Regions from separate parts of the Homo sapiens genome. Here regions 1 and 2 are each linked to region 3. Evidence: fine-mapped expression QTL. A gene starts in region 3. Each other region holds a variant in brackets. All regions are shown on one strand. Distances are between the middles of the regions.

Region 1 (8,000 bases), 28 kb after region 3:
GCAGAAAGACATAGAAAGGCATAGTAACACAGTAGGGTGCATTAGACTGCACGATCACAATGCTTTTTTTTCTTCCCTATTCTAAATCTTTCACAATTTTTCCTGATGGTAGATATTACCAACCTGTTTTCCAAAATTAGTGTATCAAATTACTCTTCCACCAGAAGTATCACAGAAGTTCCTTTTGCTTCTGGACAACAATTGGTTTAAACTTTTGCCATTCTGTTAGGTAGGCAGTGGTATCTCTTTGTGGTTTTAATTTGCATTTCCTTGATTAAGAATGAGGTTGAACACCTTTTAGATATTTATTGGCTATTTGAATATCTTCTTGTGTGAACTGCCTGTATTAGTCTTTTCCCCATTTAAAAAAATGGGTTCTCTTTTACCTTTTAGGGGGGTAGGAGTGTTTTATATATATTTTATGCATTAATATATATTTTCCAATCATATGTGTTGCAAATATCTTCTTCCACATTTTAGCTTGTCTTTTCATTCCTTTACTGGTGTCTTTTATGAACAAAACAATTATACTACAGCCTATTTTCTTAATTTTTTATTTTACAATTAATAATTGTTAAAATCCCTCCTTAAGAAGTCTTTCACTAGTTTGATTTCTTGAAAATATTTTAGCATATTAATGTCTAGAAACTACATTATTTTGCCTTTCAAATTTAGATTTAAAATCTATTTCGATTTTATTTTTCTGTATGATGTAAAATAGGGCATCATTTTTTACCCCAATATGGTATCCAATTTTCCTGGCATCTTTCATTGAAAAGACTGTGCTTTCGCTACTGCTTGGCAGAGACACCGAAATGTTCATATGTTTGAGTCTTTTTCTGGATATGTTGCTAAATTCTAGTGATCCATTGATCTATTTGTTCATTTTAATACCAATGTCACACTGTAGTTTTTTATGATAAGTTTTATGATAAGTCTTTATTTCTGATAGAGCCAAACCTCCCACCTTGCTGTTTCTCTTTAAGGTGATCCTGGCCCTTTATACTTCCTTTGAGTTTTAGAATTAGCTCATAAAATTCCACAAAAATTGTGGATCTTATTTACTGAGTTTTTATTTAAGACTGCATTGAATCCTTAAAAATTCCACTTCTAGGTATTTATCCAAGTGAAATGAAAACGTATGTCCACAAAAGAGTGGTACATGCATATATTCATAGCCCCTTTATTCGTAATTGCTCCAAACTGGAAACAACCAGTATGTTTATAAAATGTAAAACTACTAAGCAATGAGAAGGAATGCACTGTCGATACATGCAACAATGTAGATGAATCTCCAAAACATTACATTAAGCAAAAGAAGCCAGACATGAAAGAGTACGTAATACGTGATTCTATCTATATGACGTTTATAAAAGCCCCAACTCTACAGTGATATAAATCAATCAGTGGTTGACTGAAGTCAGGGATGAAGTGGGCAGATTAGTGGGAAGAGCTTTACAGGGGCATGTGGGTATCAACTGGGGTGATGATTACAGAGATCACTAAACCACATCCTAAAAATGTATATATTTTATTGTAAATAAATAATACTTTATTAAGTTTTCTTTTAAAGACTCCATTAACTCCATAGATTCGTTTAGGAAGGACTAACATTTTTACAAATTGAGTCTTCCAACCTAGGAATATGTTATATAGCTCCAAGTACTATTGCATTTCAATTCTCACATTAATATTCTTTTGCTTTTATGTAGAAATTTTTCATATTTTTCAAAGAAATATCCACTTATTTTGAGGTATTGTTAAGTATTTATGATACAATGGAAATTAAAAAATTAAATTTAATTTTGTTTATAGCTGGTTTATAAACATGTAGTTAGTTTTTATTTACTGAAAATTATATCCAGCAATCTTGCTATATTGACTTATTAATTTTATCTGTAGATTCTTTGGATTTCTACATCCACAATCATATCATTTGCTAAAAATGGCACTTTTGCTTCTTCTTTTCTAGTTGTGTTATCTTTTATATCTTTTTTTACCTGATTGTACTGACTCCAAAAATTAATACGATGTTGATATCAAAGAGAAAGTTGTCAATATTTTATCACTGTGTTAGGTTTGCAGTAGTGTTTTTATAGATATATTTTAAAGGAATTTCCCTTCTATTCCTCCTTTGCTAAGAAGTTTTATTCATTAATGGATGTTGAATTTTATCAAAGCTAATCTTGCATCTATTAAAATTATTATATGTATTTTCTGCTTAATTCTGCTAATGTAATGAATATTTGTAAAATGTTGAACAACCACGCATTTCTGGAAGCAACCCAATTGGGTCAAGATGGATTAACATTTTTATATGATGTTATATTTAGTTTGCTAATAATTTGTTTAAGCTTTTTGCCTCTATGTTCATTAATGAATTAGACCTGAAATTTTCCTTTCTCATAAAGTCCATGTCAGGTTTTGGTTATCGAGGTTATGCTTAAAGTGAGTTAGGAAATGTATTCTCTTATTGTTTGGAGGTATTTGAGTATGATCAGTATTGTTTTTTCTTTAAAGTTCTGGTAGAATTATCTGGGGAAGTCATCAGAATCTGTTTTTTTTTTTTTCCTTTGTGGGAAGTTTTAAAATTATGCATTAAAATTTTTTAATGGACATTTTTTTAATGCCAGTTTTAGATTCACAACAAAATTGAGCAGAAGGTACAGAGATAACCCATATAACCCTTGCCCCATCCGTGCACAGCCTTCCCTGTGACCAAGATCCCCCATCAGGGTGCTATATTTGTTACAATTGATGATCCTAAATTGACACATCATTATCACCCAAAGTCCATAGTTTATACTAGGATTCACTCTTGGTGTTGTACATCCTATGAGTTTTGGACAAATATATCCACCATTGTGTCACGCAGAATAGTGGTACTGCCCTAAAAACACTCTGTGCCTGCCTATCCATCCCTCCCTTCTACCGTAACCCCTGGAAACCACTGACCTTTCTTTCTGTCTCTATAGTTTTGCCTTTTCCGGAAGGTCATATAGTTGGAATCATAGAGTATGTAGCCTTTTCACATTGGCTTCTTTCACTTACTAATATGCATTTAAGTTTCCTCCATGTCTTTTCACAGCTTGATAGCTCATTTGTTTTTAGCACTGAACAATATTTCATTTTCTAGGTGTACCAGAATTTGCTTATCCATTC[T/C]CCTACTGAAGGCCAGCTTGGTTGCTCCAAGTTTTGGCACTTATAAGTACAGTTTCTGTATTCGTAAACACAGAATAAACACCTATATGAAGATTTGTGTGGTAAGAGTGTTTTCAACACTTCCTCATGTTGATCTTTTATATTGTATGCTTGTTTTCACTTCAGTCACGTCTGCTCTTTATCCATTTCCTTTCTTCTACTTTCTTTTGTTTAAATTGACTGATTTTAAAAAATGATTTCTTGAAGTGGTTAGTAGATTCTCAAATTTTGTCGTAATGTATTTACACAATAGGGTTCCCCTTAAGTACTGTTTTTGCTGTTTTAGATGAAATCATTTTATTATCATTCAGTTAAGAGCAGTTTCTAATTTCTACCAGGGATTTTCTAGCCATCTTTTCATTATTGATTTTTGGCTTCATTGCATTGTGAGGAAAGAACACGCTTTGAATGATTTCAGTGCTTGAAATGTGTTGAGATGTGTTTGATTTCATAACATCTGGCATATTTTTATACGTGTTTGCTATGTGCTTGAAAATAAAGTATATCCTCTATTTGTTGAGTGCAATGTTCTATATGTTTATTTGGCCAATTTTGCTGTTTATGTTCTTCAGATTTTCTGCATTCTCACTGATTTCTTTTGTCTTTTTTTGTTTTATATGTTTCTGAGAGAGATATGTTAAAATTCCATAATATGACTGTAGACTTGTCTTTTTCTCAATTACAAAGGATCTTCCATATACCTAGTAAGACTTTCTGCCTTACAGTCTATCTTATCTGATATTAATAAAACCACACCAGCTTTCTTTCAGTTAGTATTTGCCTGGTGTGTTTGTGTGTGTGTGTGTGTGTGTGTGTGTGTGTGCCTATTTGAATACTTTTAGCTCCTGCATTTCTATAGCATTATTTTTAGATGTGTCTCTTGTATACAGCATATGGTTGAGTTGGACAGAATTTGTCTTTTAATTGCAGCATTGAGTTTTCCTACTTTTAATGTAATAATACACGGGTGGGTTGAAATTTATTATTTTATTAATTTGCTATCTTTCTTTTAGTCCTGCTTGTTCCTTGTTCCAGTTTCTCCTCTTTTTCTCCCTTCTGTTGAATTGAGGATTTGTTGTTGTTGCTTTTAACCATTCCACTTTTTATTTGTCTATTACCTTGGAAGTTGTATATTCTTTTATTATTATTTTGGTGCTTACACTAGAGATTATAGTATGCATCTTGACTCAGGTCTTAGACCACTTTAATGGCATTTATCACTCTCTTGACTTCTGTGTCATTGTTATGTATTTTACTTCTATACCTTTCAGATGCCCAAGACATTATTATTATTATTGCTTTATTCAGTCATAATTCATTTTGATTAATCATATATTTATTCTTTTCTTTGTTCTTCATTTTATTTTCTTGTATTATTTATCTTTCATCTGGGAGCACTCTCTTTTTGCCTGAAGAACATCATTCACTATTTCCTTTATTGTAGGTCTGTTGGTAACAAATTCTTTTGTTTTTTGTTTGAAGTGCTTTATTTTACTATCACTCTTAGGGATATTTCCTCTGGGCATAAAATTCTAGGCTATCTGTTATGTTCTTTCAATACTTAAAAGATATTTTATTTACTTCTGGCTTTCTTTATTTCTGTTGATAAGTTAGATAAAAATCCAATTTTTGTTTCTTTTTCACCCTTATGCTGATTTTTAGTTTTTTTTTTTTTTTCTTTGTGGTTTTAGCAGTTTTATTGTAATTGGCCTGGGTGAAGTTTTCTTTTTACATTTCCTGCTTGGGGTTTCTAGGATTCTTTGTCTTGGCTCCTTCTGAGGCCTGATATCTTTCTTCAGTTTTGGAAAGTTCTCAGGCATCATTCATCTTGTCAAATATTGCTTTTCCCCATTCAGTCTCTTCTTTTCCATTTCCATGGGCTATAGTTACATATGTGTTATACCTCCTCACTGTATCCTGTAGTGTCTTATCCTGTATTTTCCATCCTTTTGTCTTTCTATACTTTATTCTAGTTATTTTCTTCTGGCTTCTAATTCCTGCTTCTGCTGTGTCTGTTCTTCCTTTATTAAGTTATTAATTTTAGTTAATGTATTTTTAGGCCTAAAATTTTCATTCGACTCTCTCTGTTTCTGAGTTTCTCATTTTTATGAGTTCCATAGGATGGCGTAGCAAATTACTAGAGACTGGGTAGCCTAGACAACAGAAATGTATTCTCTCACTGTTCAGGAGGCTGGAGGTCAAGGTATCAGCAGCCACACTCCCTCCAAAGGCTCTAGGGAAGAATCCACCCCTTGCCTCTTTTAGTTTCTAGTGGCTGTTGGCCTTCCTTTGCTTGTAGCTATCTCTCTGTCCCTCCATTTCACATGGCCTTCTCCTCTCTGTGTCTGTCTTAAAATTTCTTCTGCCAATCTCTTATAAGAATACATGTGATTGCATTCAGGGTTCATCTTGATAATTTAAGGTAAGTCCTCCTCTCAGCACCCTTAATTCAGTCACATCTTTTTCCATATAATGTATTATTTGCTCCTTTGCTACATAAGGTAATATTCACAAGTCTCAGAGATTAAAATGTGGACATATCTTTTTTGGGGCCACCTTTTAGCCTGCTATACCATTGTACGTTGAAATTCTCAACTTTATAATTTTCTCTTTCTATAAATAGGAAGACTTTTTACAAAAAGTCTGTTTCAGATAATTCTAGTATCTGGAGGCTTGTGGGTGGGTTTCTATTTCTGTTATTTCTGCTGGTTTTGTTTATGTCTTCTTATCTCCTTATGTGCTTGGTTATTTTTAATTGTGTGTGAGACAGTATATTCGTACAATTTTTTACAGATATAATTTGAGGTCAAGATTGAGGTTTCTCAACCCCAGAAGGGATTTACATTTGCTTCTGCAAGCACTTGGGGCATTAGAATTCTGGAAGCATCTGATTTTAGTTTCAGATATTGAGATGGCTTGAAGATGATCCATAGACCTCTGCAAGGGCCTCTTAGTTCTCTATTCTCCCTTCCTGCTAGGACACAGCTCTTTGAGGAGCCCAGTCCAAAACAAATGATACACCTGGTCAGTTCCCCCATCCTTAGCAGGACTTAAACACAAATCTTTATTTCCTTGGCTCCTCAATATGTCGTTAGGGGAGAAATAGGCCCAGAATGCCAGCTTCTTTTGTCCAGACTTCTTCCTTCCCTTGATCCTGGCCTGACGCTTTTTTTTTTTTTTTTAGATTTGAGGTGTTTTAAAGCATTTAATAAATGCTTTTTCTCTCTTTTACTTATCTTCAATGGGAAGGTGTATTAGTCTGTTTTCACACTACTGATAAAGACATACCTGAGACTGGGCAATTTACAAAAGAAAAAGGTTTATTGGACTTACAGTTCCACAGGGCTGGGGAGGCCTTACAATCGTGGTGGAAGGTGAAAGGCATGCCTCACCTGCGGCAGACAAGAGAAGAGAGCTTGGGCAGGCAAAGTCCCCTTTTTAAAACCATCAGATCTTGTGAGACTTATTCACTATCATGAAAACAACACGGGAAAGACCTACCTCCATGATTCAGTTACCTCCCACTGGGTCCCTCCCACAACACGTGGGAATTCAAGATGAGATTTGGTGGGGAAACAGCCAAATCATATCAAAAGTTTTATCTGGCATATCTAGTGAGTCATTATCAGAAGCAGTAGTCTCTCTGAAGCTTTTCTCATCTATCCACCTTACATTTTTATGATTAAAAATTCCAAAAATTACAGAAGTGGAGGGAATAGTCCAAATATTCCCCCATCACTCAAATGCAACTCTTATCAAGATTTTGTCACAATTTGCATGGAAATATTCACAACCTATAAGAAGAGAAAGTTTTAAAGCAAGGCAATATCTCAACTCACAGCCATCCACTTACCTCTAATGGCCAGCATCAGAGACAAAGACTTCTGCCTTGGTTACTGCTGTCCTGAGCTTCTAGCACAGGTGTGCCCCTAGATGATTTCAGTGAGCTATTGTTAAATGAATGTGAATTCACTGAAGAACCACAGACTGTGGGAGCTGGAGGAAGTCTTGGCTTGTCGTAATGAACCACAGATTACAGATGGAGATGCTGACATCCTGAGATTAGGTCACAGAGGTGCATGGGAGAGTTAGGCCAAGGTCTCAACTCAGGGCTCTCTCCACTTTTCCACACTTCCTCCTCATTTTGCTAGCTCATTTAATTACCACTTTTTCTTCCTTTCTGATAACACTGAAGTTTAAGAGCATTTCATTACAAGTGTGATGATACAATGTGGTATTAAGACATGACAAGGCAAGTTTTATTGGCCATTACTATTTGCCTCAAGTGAGTGGCAAAGCCTTTGACCACTCGAGGCATATATTAATAGCCCTATAAAATACATCCTGGATTGCTAGTGCTATTACCGTCTGGCTATTACATTTAAAAAAATATTGTACAAATACCACTTCAAATAATTTTCTTACTCTTTTTTTTAAACTGGAACGATTAGCTTTTTTTATGAGAGACAATTCTTCACATGATGGAGAAAATAGAATTGTCAGGTAACATGGAAAGAGTATAAGCTTTGGAGTCGTACCAAACTGTGTGCAGGTATTTGCTCTGCTATTTATCATCACTGTGACATTAGGCACTTTTCTTAAACTCTCTGGGTCTATTTTCTTCTCTGTCAAATGACAACAAGAATGCTTGTCTTTTAGAATTCATATGTATATGAAAACACCTGGCATAGGGCCTTGAACATAATGAGTGGTCAATAAATCTTATATTTTTGTTGTTGTTATTATTGTCATGATAATGAAATCCAATGGGAAATTTTTTCTTTTAATTAGTTGATTTA
Region 2 (8,281 bases), 21 kb before region 3:
ATCCTTACAGCAACCCTATGGGTTAAGGTTAAACTATCATTTCCATTTAAGAAATCAAGGCTTAGGAAGTTAAATCCTTGGTTGCTCAAGGTCGCTGAGTTAGTAAATGATAGGTCAGGGTCTTTTTTTTCTGTCTTTGCTCCCTTGGAGCGAACTCTCTCCCTGTTCTCCCTATGTGTCAGAGATGGCTCTGAACCCAGATCTGTGGGTTTCCAGAATGTAAGCTCATTACCCTACACCATTCTGCATTAACACATGAGATAGAAAAATGTGAGAACGATGAAGCATGATTTAAATAGACTCAACTAAAATGTAGATGAATCCGTGGATGATAAAATCTTCAGGAAGTTAATTTAAGAATGATACCATTTATTGTGCACTATTATGTCCAAGAAGTATTTACATTAGTTATCACTATTTTTTTTTGTTGTATGTGTGGTTTTTAAAAAAAATTTTTTAAATTATACTTTAAGTTCCGGGATACATGTGCAGAACGTGCAGGTTTATTACATAGGTATACACGTGCCATGGTGGTTTGCTGCACCCATCAACCCATCATCTACATTAGGTATTTCTTCTAATTCTATCCCTCCCCGCAAGCCCCCACCCACCGACAGACCCTGGTGTGTGATGTTCCTCTCCCTGTGTCCATGTGTTCTCATTGTTCAACTCCCACTTATAAGTGAGAATATGCGGTGTTTGGTTTTCTGTTTCTGTGTTAGTTTGCTGAGAATGATGGTTTCCAGCTTCATCCATGTCCCTCCAAAGGACATGAACTCATCCTTTTTAATGGCTGCATAGTATTCCATGGTGTGTATGTGCCACATTTTCTTAATCCAGTCTATCATTGATGGGCATTTTGGTTGGTTCCAAGTCTTTGCTATTGTGAGCAGTGCTGCAATAAACATAATGTGTGCATGTGTCTTTATAGCAGCATGATTTATAATCCTTTGGTTATATACCCAGTAATGGGATTGCTGGGTCAAATGGTATTTCTGGTTCTAGATTCTTGAGGAATTGTCATACTTCTACAATGGTTGAACTAATTTATACTTCCACCAACAGTGTAAAAGTGCTTCTATTTCTCCACATCCTCTCCAGCACCTGTTGTTTGCTGACTTTTTAATGATCGCCATTCTAACTGGCATGAGATGGTATCTCATTGTGGTTTTGATTTGCATTTCTCTAATGACCAGTGATGATGATCTTTTTTTCATATGTTTGTTGCCTGAATAAATGTCTTCTTTCGAGAAGTTTCTGTTCATATCCTTTGCCCACATTTTGATGGGGTTGTTGGTTTTTTTTTTTCTTGTAAACTTGTTTAAATTATTTGTAGATTCTGTATATTATCCCTTTGTCAGATGGATAGATTGCAAAAATTTTCTCCCATTCTGTAGGTTGCCTGTTCACTCTGATGATAGTTTCTTTTGCTGTGCAGGAGCTCTTTAGTTTAATTAGATCCCATTTGTGAATTTTGGCTTTTGTTGCCATTGCTTTTGGTGTTTTAGTCCTGAAGTCTTTGTGCATGTCCTGAATGGTATTGCTTAGGTTTTATTTAGGGTTTTTAGGTTTTAGGTCTTATGTTTAAGTCTTTAATCCATCTTGAGTTAATTTTTGTATAAGGTATAAGGAAGGGGTCCGGCTTCAGTTTTCTGCATATGGCTAGCCAGTTTTCCCAATACTATTTATTAAATAGGGACTCCTGTACCCATTGCTTGTTTTTGTCAGGTTTGTCAAAGATCAGATGGTTGTAGATGTGTGGTGTTATTTCTGAGGCCTCTATTCTGTTCCATCGGTCTATATAGCTGTTTTGGTTGCTATAGCCTTGTAGTATGGTTTGAAGTCAGGTAGCATAATGCCTCCAGCTTTGTTCTTTTTGGTTAGGATTGTCTTGGCTGTGCAGGCTCTTTTTTGGTTCCATATGAAGTTTAAAGTAGTTTTTTCTAATTCTTTGAAGAAAGTCAGTGCCCAAAGTAACTTACTGATTCAATGCTATCCCTATCAAGCTACCATTGTTATCACTAACTCTTACTGAAATCCTATAAGGTTGTCCCATCTACAGATGGAAAACTGTGGCTTAGTTTAGAAAGATTATCTTGCTGAAGACCATAGATCTAGAAAAAGTTTGGAGATTTAAAGCCAGGTGTGTTTGATTTAGGTTCTTTTCATGACACCACATGATCTTTGGAGGTTGAAGTCATAGAGAGCCACTTGCTATGACAGAGAGGAATCAACTAGAAGTTTACATATTCTCTTATTGGGTGCTTAGCATATGCCAGGCTTTGCGCCAAGCACCTAAGCTACAGCCATTGTGGACCAACAAATCTTTCCCTCAAAAACCTACTGTCTAGTCCTTCTGACACTGAAATCAAAGCTGCTTTTAGCCCACTGCCTATGAGAACATTTCTGACATATCTATTTATTTTGACTAAAAATGGTGCATAATCAGGCCATATTTCTGAAAATGTTAATTAGGAAAGCAATTTTCTGTTTTCATTAAGGACAAGTGTCTTGGGTGAGGAGAGGGAAGAATAAAAGTTAATATTTGGTGAAACACTGGGCCACACTAACCATCACATTAACCACGGGAAGAAAGTCAGCTTTGGGGTTTTAAGTGTTTAGAGGTCTCTTATTAAAAAAAAAAAAAGTTTATTTGAAGTTGCTATGGTTACATTTTATTCATAAAGGTAAAACAACTGAAAAAGTGGCCTAGAGAAATAATAATAAAGTCATGAGCCAACATTTGCCAAGTGCTCGCTGCATGCTCGGCACCACAACACATGCCTACATGTGTCATTTAATGTAATCCTCACGACAACCCCAGCAGATAGCCTTATAATTCTCATTTTACAGAGCAGAGTAAGGCACAGACAAGTACAGTTAACATGCCCAAGGTCCAACAGAAGAATGGGAATTTGAACCTAGGTAGTTTATGATCCAGGTTGATTAAATTCATTTAACAATTGCTCATTTGTCCCTTTATTTTGCTCATCTAAACACAGTATAGCACTCATTTCACTTAATTCAACAGAGAGTTTTGCTTCAAGCCTTCTAAAGTGTCATAATTACTCATTGTTATCACAAAACATGTATTTAGAACCAACCACATGCCAGGCCTCATACTAGCTGACCAATATACACAGTGTTTGGCAAAAGCTAAGGTAATGTTTATCTTTTAGGTTTGTGTTTTATGTAAGTCCCTACAATGTTATATCTTCTCATAATCTTTCTGCAGAAAATTACAAGCTGGCTGCAGAATAGCAATGAGTTATTCTTTTCTATTCTTTTGTGTAAGACATAATTCACGTTATGGAAAGGTCTGATTTCATAAACCTATGATTAGGTGAGGTAACATACAAACATGTAGATTCATTCAGGGTCTAGTTTTTACAGCTTTCTAAAGTCCATATGAGAACTCCAGTGTGTCTTCCTTTAAAAAATATATACCTTGTTTTTGGAAGATGATCTAGGGGGTAAGGTAAGATTGAGGTCACAGGAAACAAGGGTCCATGATAATTCAGTGCAAGGTGTTAGTT[A/T]TTGTGGTTGTTGGCAGTCAGAGAGTGGTTAAGTGATGACCGTTGCAGCATCCTTCCTCTGGCAGCAGCAGGAGCTGGGTGACGCTGAGCTGCCTGTTTCCAGGCCACTCACTGTGGCTTTGATGTGCTGTGTCTGCAACTCATTCCCCAGTTCTGTTCTCCAGCATTTCATTGTCAGCCACGGCCAGGGTACCCCGCCGCCTCTCACTTCCATCACACAGCCAGCCCCAGGCAGACTGTTTTTAAAAACATAAGCCAGTCTTGCTTCTCTGCAGATGGAATGTTTTACGTGAGAAATAATCCAGCTGAGTGTTTGCTCCACAGTTTGAATAAGAATGAACTGGCCAGTGGCTTAGTAGGGATTCAGGTCAGGAATGTGTTCTGCTGTCAGAAGGGGAAGTTAATGGTGGAAATTTGTAAACTGCTGTTGTTGGGTTGACATAATATGTATGGTCTAGTAGGATTAGAAGTTGATTCTAGAGTTAGACACAGGTTGAAGTCCTGGTGTTGCTTTTCAGTAGCCACCCCTTGTGAGCCTCAGTTTTCCTTCCATGAAACTGAGGAAAAACTTGATGCAAGAAGTGAAGAGAGAATGCAGGTACAGTGTTTAACATATTGCCCGACAAATGCTCAGTTAATGCTGTCTATTTTTTTTTTTTTTTTGGTCATTTTGGTCTTTATTTTATGGTAAAGGGAAAGCAACCCACTGTTTTTAAATCTTCCGCAAAAGCATGGTTACCAACGGCCTAGAAAATGACAAATAGTGTTAACTCCTTCATATCAATACCCTTTCCACTAATATTGTTTCAAGTGGAGCCAGTATGATTATGCTTTGATTTGCTAGCATGATTAAGCATATAACAGTGTAAGAGTCAACTAACTGATGACTTTATCAGGGAAGCCTCCATTCTTATTTTAAATTTCCTATCTTCTTTTTTTATTTTTTTGAGACAATATCTCACTCTGTCACCCAGACTGGAGTGTAGTGGCTGTCGTAGCTCACTGCAGCTTCAGCCTCCTGGGCTCAAGCATCCTCCCATCTCAGCCTCCCAAGTACCTGGTACTCAGGCATGCACCACCATGCCTGGCTAATTTTTAAAAAATTTCTTGTAGAGACAGGGTCTCACTATGTTTCCCAGGCTGGTCTCAAACTCCAGGGCTCAAGCAATCCTCTTGCCTTGACCTCCCAAAGTGCTGGGATGATAGGCATGAGCCACTGCACTTGGACTGTCTTTGTAATTTTATCAGATTTACTTTAAATGCTTTGTCGTTTTAGTGACAGAAACATGTGCATTCATGCTTATTTTACTCTCTTGGTGTAATTTTCTTATATACAGCCCCTCTTTAGCCCTAACAGTACTTTCTGATTAAGTTTTCTTTTGTCTGGAATTAATATTGAAGCATCAGTTTTCTTTTCTGTGCAATGGAATAAACTAGTGATACACATAACATGGATGAATCTCAAAAAACATTAAGCAGAGTGAAGGAAGCCAGACACAAAGATTACATGCAGTCTAAAAGCATTTTTTAAAAGACTCTTGAAAAAATAAATCTAATTTATAGTGACAGAAAGCAGAGCAGTGGTTACTTGGGGCCAAGGGTGGGGTGGGGAAATTGACTGGGGAAGGAATAAAGGAAACCTTTCGTGGTGACAGAAATGTTCTGTATCTTGATTGTGGTGGTAGTTACAAGAGTGCGATCAAACAGTGTTCTTAAAATGGCTGTACTTTATTGTATATAAAGCATGTTGCAGTAAAGTTAAATAACAAAATTCTGATCGGATGGTTTCTGTCTTTTTTACAACATGGGTTTATTTAGCCTTAATTATTAACAACAGTTGCATACTCAAAGATTTCTAGATTGATAGCTATTTTCCCTCAACATTTAAAATACATTATTCTATTATCTACCTATTATTGCTGAGAAGACTGTCAGTTCCATTGTTACCGTGTCTTATTTTCTTCTCCCCGGAGCTTTGTTTACTTCTTGTTTTGGATGTTGTGCATTTTCAGTAAGATGTGTCTTGTTGTGTATTTGTATTTTTATTTATTTTGCTTAAATTTTGCTATGATTTATTACTAAATATAATGACTTCTTTCTTTAATTGTGGAAAGCTTTCAGACACTCTCTTTGGATATTGGTTCTCCAATCTCTCCATTCCTTCCTTTAGGAATTCCTATTAGATGTATGAATTAGACTCTTATTTTAACCTTTTAGTATCTTAATATCCCTTAGATATTTCATGTTTTTAATATCTCTTTTATTTGTGCTGCACTTGTGCTAAAATAATTTCCCTAGGTCTATCTTACATTTCATTAATTCTTTGTCACCTGTGTTGGGATTTCTATTTCAATGAGTATACTTTTTGTCACTATGATTTCAATTTCATCCTTTTCAAGCATGCCTATGTGTTTTTTAATATTTTCTACCTTTAGCTCTTTGGACATGTTAATCATGTTTATTTCTAAATCTCTTTCATTTTCTTCCATTATTCCAGGTGATGGTGTGCCAGTTCTGCTCTCTGCTGTATCTGTGTCCTGTTTCCTTATGTCGTTTGTAATTTTTGATCACAAGCACATTTTCAACAAGGTTTGTTTACCATGGGACCCCCATGAGGCCTGAACTACAGAAGTGGTTTGGGGTTTGCCTCTGCCAGGTCCCTGGAGGTTTCATTGGCCTTAGATTAATTTTTATGTTAAACTTCTGTGGTAAATTGTGTTTCTGGAGAAGACCACAACAATAGACCCTCTCCCAATAGCTCTTTTGTAATGTGATCTTGCCACTCCTCCATCAAGAGGTGGAGTTTATGATCCCTTCCCCTGATTCTGAGCTGCCTGTGACTGACTTTGATTGACAGAATGTGGCAGAAATGACACTGCATCACTTCCAAGACTGGCCTTATGAGACTCCCAACTTTTGCTTTCACTACTTGGAGAGCTCCCTTTTGGAGGCCAGTCATCGTGTTAGAAGCATAACTAACTGGAGACCACTATGTGGTGGAGAAGCTCATGCTGTCTACATATAGAGGGAAATGGCATATCAATGAATTAAACATGAAAGTGAAGATTTCTTGGCCCTCTCCATCTTACTCAGCTCATTGGAGCCACCAGCTGAAAGCAAGGGAGTGAATGAGCCCAGCCCCGAGTGGAGCAGAAGGAGCCCAACCAGCGAAGCCCAGCCTGAATTCCTGACTAACAGGTGATGAGCAAGTAGTTTGAATCCACCACCTAGCCTTGAGATTCCGATTCTTGCAGTCGATCCTTTTCCACTCATTGTGTAGGCAGTTGGGAACATGTCTTCTCATTTCATTACTCTAGTGGGGGAAACTTTTCAAGTGTTTCACTGGGGCCCTTTCCAGTCAGATTAGTTTACTGCAATGACTAGAAATGCATCTTCACTCATGATGGCCCAGGTTAATTCTTGACCCCTCTGGCACAACTGTCTCTCATCATCATAAAGAAGCATAACATATATAACTATTCCCTCTCTTATGCCACCCCTCTCCTCACAAACATGTAGTGGTTTCCAATTTTCTATGAAATAAAACTCTTGTTTTTCAGTTCCAGATATTTTTATCTAATGAAAGGCCCACATTTCTTATTTATGTATCTATTTATTTATTTATAAGAGATGGGATCTCACTATGTTGCCCATCTGGTCTTGAACTCTTGGCCTCCAGTGATCCTCCCACCTTGGCCTCCTAAAATGTTGGAATTATAGGTGTGAGCCATCGCATCCAACAAAATCCCCACTTTTCTTATCTCACTGGTCTACATATCTGTTTCTCAGTCAACCTGAACTATCTCTTCTTACTCTATGTACCCCACTCCATATCCTGTCTCCATAATTTTACTCTCATTATTCTCTTTGCATGAGATACCCAAAGCTCTGGTGTTCACATGTAGATAGATCTAACCTATCTTTCAAACCCCACTAAATCACCTCCTCCACTATAAAGCCTTTTTTGGTAACCCAAGCTATAATGTCTCCCTCCTTTGAAGCCCAGTAATATTTTTTACCTGTCAATGTCTTATGATTTCTACCTTCTCAGATTTTTAAAGCATAGTGGTTTAGAATAGAAGTTGACAAATTACAGTCCAAATTACTGACCAAATCCAGCCCACTATCTGTTTAGGAGAAATAAAGTTTTATTGGAACACAGTCACGCTCATTCATTAAGATACTGTCTATGGTTACTTTTGCACTACAATGGCAGAGTTGATTCTTCGTAAGGGAGACCAGCAAAGCTTAAAATATTTGTTGTCTGGCCTTTTACAGAAAAAAGATTGCTGATCCTTGATTTAGAGCATGAAAATTGGATTTTGTATTACACCTTAATATATATATATATATATATATATATATTTTATTTTACTGTAAGTTCTGGGATACATGTGCAGAATGTGCGGGTTTGTTACATAGGTATACATGTGCCATGGTGGTTTGCTGCAACTATCAACCCGTCATCCAGGTTTTAAGTTCTGCATGTATGTATTTGTCCTGATGCTCTCCCTCCCCTTGCTTCCCACCCTGCGACAGGCCCCAGTGTGTGATGTTCCCCTCCCTGTGTCCATGTGTTCTCGTTGTTCAACTCCCACTTATGAGTGAGAACATGCAGTGTTTGGTTTTCTGTTCCTGTGTTAGTTTGCTGAGAACGATGGCTTCCAGCTTCATCCGTGTCCCTGCAAAGGACATGAACTCATTGTTTTTTATGGCTGCATAGTATTCCACGGTGTATATGTGCC
Region 3 (8,246 bases):
TATTTACTTTTAATTGATTATGTTTTTTTTTTTAAAAAAAAACTTAGAGGAAAACTCTTTAAGAAAAACAAATCAGGCTAAAAACTACATTCTTCTAGGTAATGAAAAGTAGGCAAACAACATTAGTTTTGGATTTTTTAAAAATTAAAAACAGCTTTTCTTAATTGGTTCATTTGAAAAAAAATGGAAACTTCCAATAGGGAAAGGTAGAGCTGAGATGAAGTTAAGGGAGAATGTTACTGAATGGGAAAATATATAATATTTTAAAAATGCAATTTTAAATCATGCGTAACTTGTCTTGGAGTTCATCCCAGATAAGTATCAGTATAGTCAGGGATGTTGACGAATTCTGGATTAGAAGAACTGTGCAAAGGTTTGAAATAGCAGTAAGCTCAAGTCTTGGGAATGCAAACTGGATGACATTTTGGAATGTCCTACTATCGAAAAGGAGAGAAATGAAGCTTAACCCCATATGTCAGTGTATTCTCATAAACAGCTACCTAAAAGGGCATAGCCAAGATGCAGTTAAACATAGCTACAGACACACGTGTGGACCTGGACAGCTAGATGCCTGCTTTAGGATATGAAAAATTTCCTAGGTCACAATTATAACAGTGCAATGATTTCTAGAAAAAGAAGATCATTTCCTATCCTGGCTCAGAATGTTAAAAAAAATGACTTTCCCATAACATTTTCTAATGGATCTTCCAGTCACAGTCTCCTATGGAGGCATAATTTATGTAGTGGATGACAAAGAGTTTTATGATATCTGGAATTCATTTAAAATCTTTAGATTGGAAAAATTGAGATCCAATTAAAATCTTAATAAATGACTCTGTGTTGCATATAAATATATTAAATTAATATGTGTGCAGGCTGAAATTGGAAAAGTTATGAGAGTCAGCATGTTAATTCTATTTCTATCAGGGAACTAACTGTATGTTATAACTCTGAGAATTATTGGGTAATGGGGCTGTTTACAATGAGGCAAAACTGAATTTAAATAGCAAATATTCACCCATGACTTGTCATAACTCATGAAGTCTCCACCTTGAGGCATGGTGAAATCTCACTAGTGAAAGGCCTCTGAGGAGAGGGAAGGTGGACCAGGAAGCCAAGAAGAGCCCTAGGGAGGCTGATGTAGTGAAAGGGCCAGGTCCAAGGATCTCTCCATGAAAGGAAGCAAAGGCTGGCAGGCTGCTCTGTGGCACCCCCACGTAGTAGGTGAGATGCAGCAGTGAGAATCTTTGATTGGAAGTCATTCTCATGCACAGAAGGTGGTAACAGCTTGGTTGGTGAGAGACTGATGAGAAGTGCTGGGTCTTTGTTAAGGTATGACCCAGGGGCTGAGGGTTGAAAAATACAGGGTGAGTGTATGTATCCGGTACACTCAGATTGATAGAGTGTACCTATCCTCTGCATACTCACATATTTACCCTAGGTTTTGTATCCTAGTCTGTATCCCGGGGAGGATTCATACTTACCCTAAGTTTTCCTATGGCTACACTAAGACAACAGATGAAATGTGAAGAGTGACAAATGACAGAAATTGGGCTTCTAACATACTGGACAGCTGAATGTAGCAGTTAAGATGGCAAACCCACAAGTCCCTAGATTCAAACCCCTGTTCCCCTAGTTACCAGCTGGGGATGATAACATCCATGTGGATGTTGTGAGGATCAAATGAGATACTTTCTTTAATTGCAGGATGCTCCATTTTGTTATTATTATTTTTGGAAATAGAAACTCTTGGCTTTAAGTCACATAATGTTAGAGCTGGAAAATTATGCTACACCTATGGATTTGACTAAGCTGTTCCTGTAGTTTGGCCAGTTTTAAAACAAAAAAATCCTGGCAACACACTCCTATCCTCCCAGCCCCAACAAATCTGGCTATCTCCATTCCCTGGTAGGTTCAAAACCTGTTTTTATTTCCATCCAAAAGCTTCCCCCCCACCCCCAGACATCGAGTGGTCCATCTAAAACAGTGATTGTTAATACTGTTTTGTAAATCTTCCAGTCCAGATTTATTCTAGAACTTGAGTTTGTTTTTAGATTGTTATAAATGTGCCTTTATTTCTAGCTGTTTGACATAACTTTTGGATGTTAATAAAAAAAATAACACCTTGGGAAGTATGGACATGGGTGGATAGAAATGTAATTGAGAAAGCCATATCCAAGTAGATTGAGGGAATTAGTAAAGGCCTCATCACGGCATACCCAAGTCATAACATGTTAAAAGTTTGCTCCGTTGGTGTTCATCCTCCTGAGACACCCAAGGCTGATGGCAATTATCCTATTCATCTTCTCCCACAAGTCTGTCTTTAGCGGAAGATTTTTTTCTTTACATAAAGAGCTATCATATAAAAAGTGCTCATAGTGCCAGAAATTGAGGTAAATGCAATTTGCAAACATTATTATCTCATTTAATTCTCTTGAGGATAGATAATATTAGATAAGGTAAGGATTAAAGAGAGGTTAAGAAACTTGATCAAGGACACCCAGCAGGGAAGTACTTAGCAGGGCTGTTCACTAGGGCCTGCTGTTTCTCTTTCCAGATGTACAGACTTTCTAGAGAGAACGATGTGCTCTGCCCACCCTCACCCCTTTGCTCTGCTGTTCTGCCAGGGACATGCAGGAGACGGAGGCCTTCCTCTTAACCGCAAGAGGCCTTCCTTTTTTACTAATATTCCTCAGCACAGACCCTTTACGGGTGTCGGGCTGGGGGACGGTCAGGTGTTTCTCTTTCTCCTTCCTGAGATCTTTGCTTCCAATTTGGCTAAGGCCCTTTCCATGTTATAGTATCATGTATCTCTTATTCTTGTCTTTCTCACTTAACTGTGAGCCCACCTTGATGTTAGATATTCTGAAAGTCATTCTCCTATCCCTGAAAGGTCTTCAATAAAGATTTTTCCTCCACTTAGTGGAAGGTGAATAAAGTTTATTCTTCCATTTAGTAGTGGCTCAATAAAAAAGTTTGTGGAATCAATCAAGGGATGAGTAAATGAATGAAATACTGAATTTTCCTGGCCTATGAAGGACCATGAGCTAAAGCAGCGGTTTAAAGTATATAGTCCCAAACAAAGAATTCTTACTAAAAACACACCGGATCTGTAAGGCAGAGGAGGGAGGGGCGGGAGGAAGAAGTCGAAGAGCAGGGTGTGGTATTCCAGGGAGACTGAAGACAGGAGCTTCCCATGGGACAGGCAGTTCATCCACAGGCTCAGCTTCTGCAACCTCCTTCCTGTGGTTACTCCTGCTCTCTAAGAATTCTGCATGTTCTCATCAAGAAAATACCAAATTCCTTGAAAGCCTGGATTCTGCCTTGTGGTTTGTGAGCCAATCTCATGACACCACCAGCCCACAGTGCTTTTCCTGATTCCATGGAGGCAAACTAGACGGAGCTTCTAGCAAGTGAAACTTCTTTTGGGTAGATATTTGGGGGCCGCTTTTAAAATTTTTCTGACAGACCAAGTGGTAAAAATCTGTGTGTGTACACGGAATGCTCTCTCCCTTCTGCAATGCGTTTACTCTCCTTGTAGAAATAACTGCTTCTCTTAGCCGGCTCTTGCTTGGAGCAGGGAAGAGCAAAGTCCTATCATGTACACATACACAGTTTATAAACATATACTGTACAATCAACATGTACATATATAATACAATATACACATGTGTGCATCCTGTATCTGTATACTGTATATCATGCATATACAATTTCATAAACAAGCTTGTACCAGGAAAAGGCAATAATTTATATATTATACACACATACATGTATATGTAAAATATGTACACACACACAAAATATACCATACAGAGTGTAAGGTTCATGACGTCTTTCTTTCGTTGATATTTGTGCTCACTTATTAGCGGTAAATTATTAATTTTAGATAAGCCCATCACAGAGTGAAGGCTCAATCCTTGAACAGCCCAGGGAGAACTTCGTTGCTACTTTTGAAAAGCCCTTTGATGTGCCCAAAGTCTCCAGAAGGGCGATGCCAAACCCACTCAACTTTGACAAAGTGTGAAACGTCTGTAAAAAGGAGTTCTCTGATGTGTGAGAGGAGACGGAACCGAGAAGAAAAGGCCGTACTCTGCCCCCCGCGGGACCCAGGTCCCCGCCTGCTGCAGAGCGCACTCTGCGCACGTCGAGCCGCGAAAGGTTCACAGAAGAAAACAAGAGAAAGAAGTAGCAGGCACTGAGGAGCCGCCGGCGCCGGCGCCCAGGACGGCACGTGACCCGGGGGCGGGGCCGCGCGGGCCGCGGGCCAGTGGATGGGGACGGGGGCGGGGCCGCGGCTCGGGGGGCGGGGTCTGTGGCGGCGCAGCTTACACCGCGGTCCCCTTATTTGGATCTGCGGGAATGTGGGCTGGAGAGGTCCTGCCGTGGTACCAGCCTCCAGCCTGCCCCCAGGACTGCCCCTGACCCAGGCGCGCCCGCTGCTCGGTGGCAGGAGGGCCGGCGGAGCGCCATGGCCTGCATCCTGAAGGTAACGACTTGGATCTGTGGCTCGGACGCGTGGTTGGCCAGCCCCTTGCTGCTCAGAGGCACGGAGTCAGCCGCGGTCCCACCGCATCCTCATCTCAGTTGTCTTTTCCTGGCATTGATTTTCTTTTTGTTCCTTTGGCAAATGCATATGGAGGGAGATTCTGAAACATGCAGCTGGCACAGCTTCTTTTCCCACCATTCCTGCCTCCTGCTCGCGCCTGCATTGAAGGAGCTGCAGACTGTTGGCTCCAGGGGAGAGCAGGGCTGTGTGCCGAATAATGGGGATGGTAGGGAGAGGAGGGGTGTTCCCGCGGGTCCCGCGGCTCTGTGGAGCCTGAGGCCTTTCAGGGGCCACGGGGAGGGGTGGAGTGGCTAGGCGTGAGTTGCTGGTGGTGAGGGGCATAGCGCTTTAAATGGAGGGAAGAGTGAGCGGAGGTGGGCTCTACTGTGCATTTGATCATGTGAAGACAGAAACTTCTGAGTTTACAGGTAGTCCCTTAGGAATGAGTTTTCTATGAGATCTGCTAGCTCTGTTTGCCCTTAGCTCTACTTTGGAAAAGTTCACACGAGGATGTATATGTTAGTAGAGAACCTCTCACTCTCTTTATGCTCATAAATTTGAATAGACAAAATGATTTTATGCTCTGCCAGAGTGCGCTCAGCCATCCCTTCTTTGTTGAGTTTTCTTTCTCCAAGACCGGATTCTTAGCCTCACCTGAGCATCTTTCTGGGTTCACAGACTTGTGGCCTCAGGTGGGAGAACTTGGTGTGAGGGCCTCACTTAAAAAGAACTTTCCATCCCACTGGTAGAGGCCTCCCCTGCCCTCGTTTTTTTTTTTGCACTACCTTTCTACAAGAACATAACCTGGATGCATGAATCAAAAACATGAACAGCATGAAAGTTTCCTGGGCCTTGACTGGAGAATGCAGAGACCTAGTTGTCCAAGCCTGGGGGAACTGTGTGACGATGGAAAATACCAGGAAACAATTCGTTGTTGTTGTGTTATTGTGAAGTAGCATTTATTTCTCTATAAGATGATATTAAGTCATCTACTGTGTTCTGGTTACCTGAATCGTCTTCTAACGTGCCTGGTGTCAATGATGAAAATAAGAGACTAACCTCGTAGAAGTTGTTTCCCCTTCTTTGCGTAAAGGAGATCAGAAGTTTCCTGTGAGCTTTCTGAACTTCCTCTTTTTGTTTCAGAACATTTTCCAGGACATGAGGAAATAATACATCAGTATTACAGTATGGGGTATTTGACCGGGAGGCTCTTAGCACAAGGACTGAAATATGAATATGAGTCATCTTTACTATTCATTGTGTTATTTGCTGAAAGGGACATTGAGGAGCATGATATTTATTGCTGGCCATCTTTTTCTGTTTTGGTTTCTCCCCTGCCTTGTCCTATACATGTGGTAAACATCTTTAATGCACATCCCAAACTACACATGAATCTGGTCCAATCTTTCTCTTCTAGCACTTCACACTGCTTTCAGACATTTGGGACATATCTGTCCACCTTATCTTCCCTCCACTGAAACTAATGTGGGCTTTAGACTCAGAAAGATATGTCTGGATGCTGGCTCTGCCCACTGCTACCTCTGTGATGTTGGACAAGTTACTTAAATGTCTCTGGGCCTTAGTTTCTTCAATATAAGATCAAAGTAGTGGCACCTGCTTCACAAGGTTGCTGTGGGAATGAAATAAGATAGGGTATGAAAAATACTTTGTGGCACAGGCATTTAATATGTGCCATTTTTTTCCTCTAACATATAATAATAAGTGCAGTTTGGTTGATCCTTACTATATCCTCAGTCTGTTTCTTATAACTATTATTTTTTATAAAATACAAAATGTTTTTTATTCTTTAATCTTTACATAAAACCCTGAAAGATAAGTATCATTGTTTTAAACCCCATTTTACAGATGAGAAAGTTGACGCTCCCTAGTTTAAGAGATTTGCCCAAGGCCACACAGGGTTAATGACAGAGTGATCCTGGATTTAGACCCAGATATGTCAACCTTCCATATACTTTACTGCTGTTCCAGTACTTTCCCAGGTGATGACTTTTAAGATGGCCTAATACCATTCAGTTCCAACCACCTTTGAGCACCTTTGAGCAATCCCCTTCTCTGGTCATGGTCTAGACAGTCTGGGCTGGATCTTTTTTCTTTGTTGTCTTTGAAAAGCTACACATGGAGCAGTGCAGAATACAGGTTTCAGTCCAGAGACCTGAGTTCAGTGCAAGCCTGGCTTCTTGCATATGATTTTAGACAGCTGCTGCAACCTGGAGCCTCAGTTTTCCCTTGTTGAAGTGTTCATAGAATTATAACCATTGCGTTACAGGGTTTTTATGAGGATAAAACTATGGACTTTTTTTTTTTTAATGAAATATTTTCTGCCATTTGCTGACCCTGGACTTGGTGTTGGCATATGTAGAAAAGGAAAGATTTTCCTCTGCCCTCTTAGTTTCTGTGCCTGGTCCTGATAGCTAAACTGACAAAAGGCATATTAACAGAGGAAAAACATACACATTTTATTTGATGTTAATGTTTTTATGTGTACCACAGAGGGCTTCCTATATAAGAAATAAAGACCCGAAGAAGGGGAGAGGCCTGAGAGTTTATAAAGCATTTTAATAGAGAAGGATAAATTGTGGAAATGTGACAAGACAAAGGAAAAAGGGGGTTTGGGCTGGGGCAGTCGATTGTGAGAAAGTGGGAAATGTATGGGGAAAACTAATGGAAAATAGGTGAGTGTTTTTACTAGAGATTTATTTTGGTGTTGACTCTCCATCTTTGATCATAAGAATGTTCTCCTCTTCCTGGCACAGGGAAGGGACATTTCTCATGGGAAATTTTATGCCTTGCTTTTAGGTAGAAATGGGGAGGTCAGAAAGCCCTTCCTGTATCTGCTTTTTCTCAATTGCCTTTAGCTCAAAATAATCAATATGCCAAAGTGATATATTTTGGGGTAGCCTGTTCTGATTCCTTTTACATCACAAGATGCATAAACCATTGACCCCATTCTCAAATGGCTTATGGTTTAGTAAGGATGATAGAAAAGTAAATGAGTGCTTAGGTTACAATGTGAAGAATAAAACTACATAGGTCCATGGAGGGCATAGTAGAAGCATGGAAGGAGAGAGCAATTACCCCTGTCATTGGGTAGTTCAGACAGGCTTCCCACTGATGATATTGGAGTTGTGTTTTGAAGACTAAATAGGATTTACTATGACGGAGCTCGTGTTTTAGAAAGATAAGTTTTGAGGCAGTGCCAACTTTGTTCTGTGGGCTAAGACTTTAATCTTCTCAATGAATTTTGCAGTAGATTTTACTATCCATTTTTACAAATGAGAAAACTGAGATAGAGAGATATTGATTAAAGTATCATTATTGCCTACACAATAGTGACCCTCACTAAGAAGAGACCCCCATGCTGTGGCAGCTAATTTTGGTCTTTTAGGGGATATGGAACTATCCCCTCAAGGTGCTGTGCATGCTGAGGGCCCATTCTGCCAATGCATAGCGCTAGTTCTCGTAACAGAACGATGATCACTTCATAATCATTTAATTTAGGAATTCAGACTTCACATTGCCTGGACTTTAAAGCCAGAAATATGTGACTTTTAATTATGGCTCCACTCCTTATTGATTATAGAGCCATAACAAGTTTCTTGATTTCACTACCTCAGTTTCCAAAATGGGAATCATGCATTCCTCAATGGGTTATTCTAAAGGTTAAATGAGATAATCT

Evidence for each region.
Region 1: its variant is fine-mapped to the expression of ST6GALNAC3 in whole blood (TOPMed, PIP 0.93).
Region 2: its variant is fine-mapped to the expression of ST6GALNAC3 in whole blood (TOPMed, PIP above 0.99).

The regions. Positions count from the first base shown.
Region 1 is chr1:76,098,244-76,106,243 of GRCh38, forward strand. The region is part of intron 1 of ST6GALNAC3 (ST6 N-acetylgalactosaminide alpha-2,6-sialyltransferase 3); the gene reads left to right. Among named protein-coding and RNA genes, the nearest start is that of ST6GALNAC3, 27 kb to the left of the region's middle. The variant T/C (reference allele first, on the strand shown) is at 3,163.
Region 2 is chr1:76,049,480-76,057,760 of GRCh38, forward strand. LOC124904200 reads left to right here. Exons shown (of 5, transcript XR_007066173.1): 3 at 6,034-6,125; 4 at 6,630-6,734. Among named protein-coding and RNA genes, the nearest start is that of ST6GALNAC3, 21 kb to the right of the region's middle. RefSeq lists an enhancer at 3,272-3,772. The variant A/T (reference allele first, on the strand shown) is at 3,537.
Region 3 is chr1:76,070,396-76,078,641 of GRCh38, forward strand. ST6GALNAC3 (ST6 N-acetylgalactosaminide alpha-2,6-sialyltransferase 3) reads left to right here and starts at 4,351. Exons shown (of 5, transcript NM_152996.4): 1 at 4,351-4,489. The coding sequence starts at 4,472. RefSeq lists a silencer at 4,152-4,351.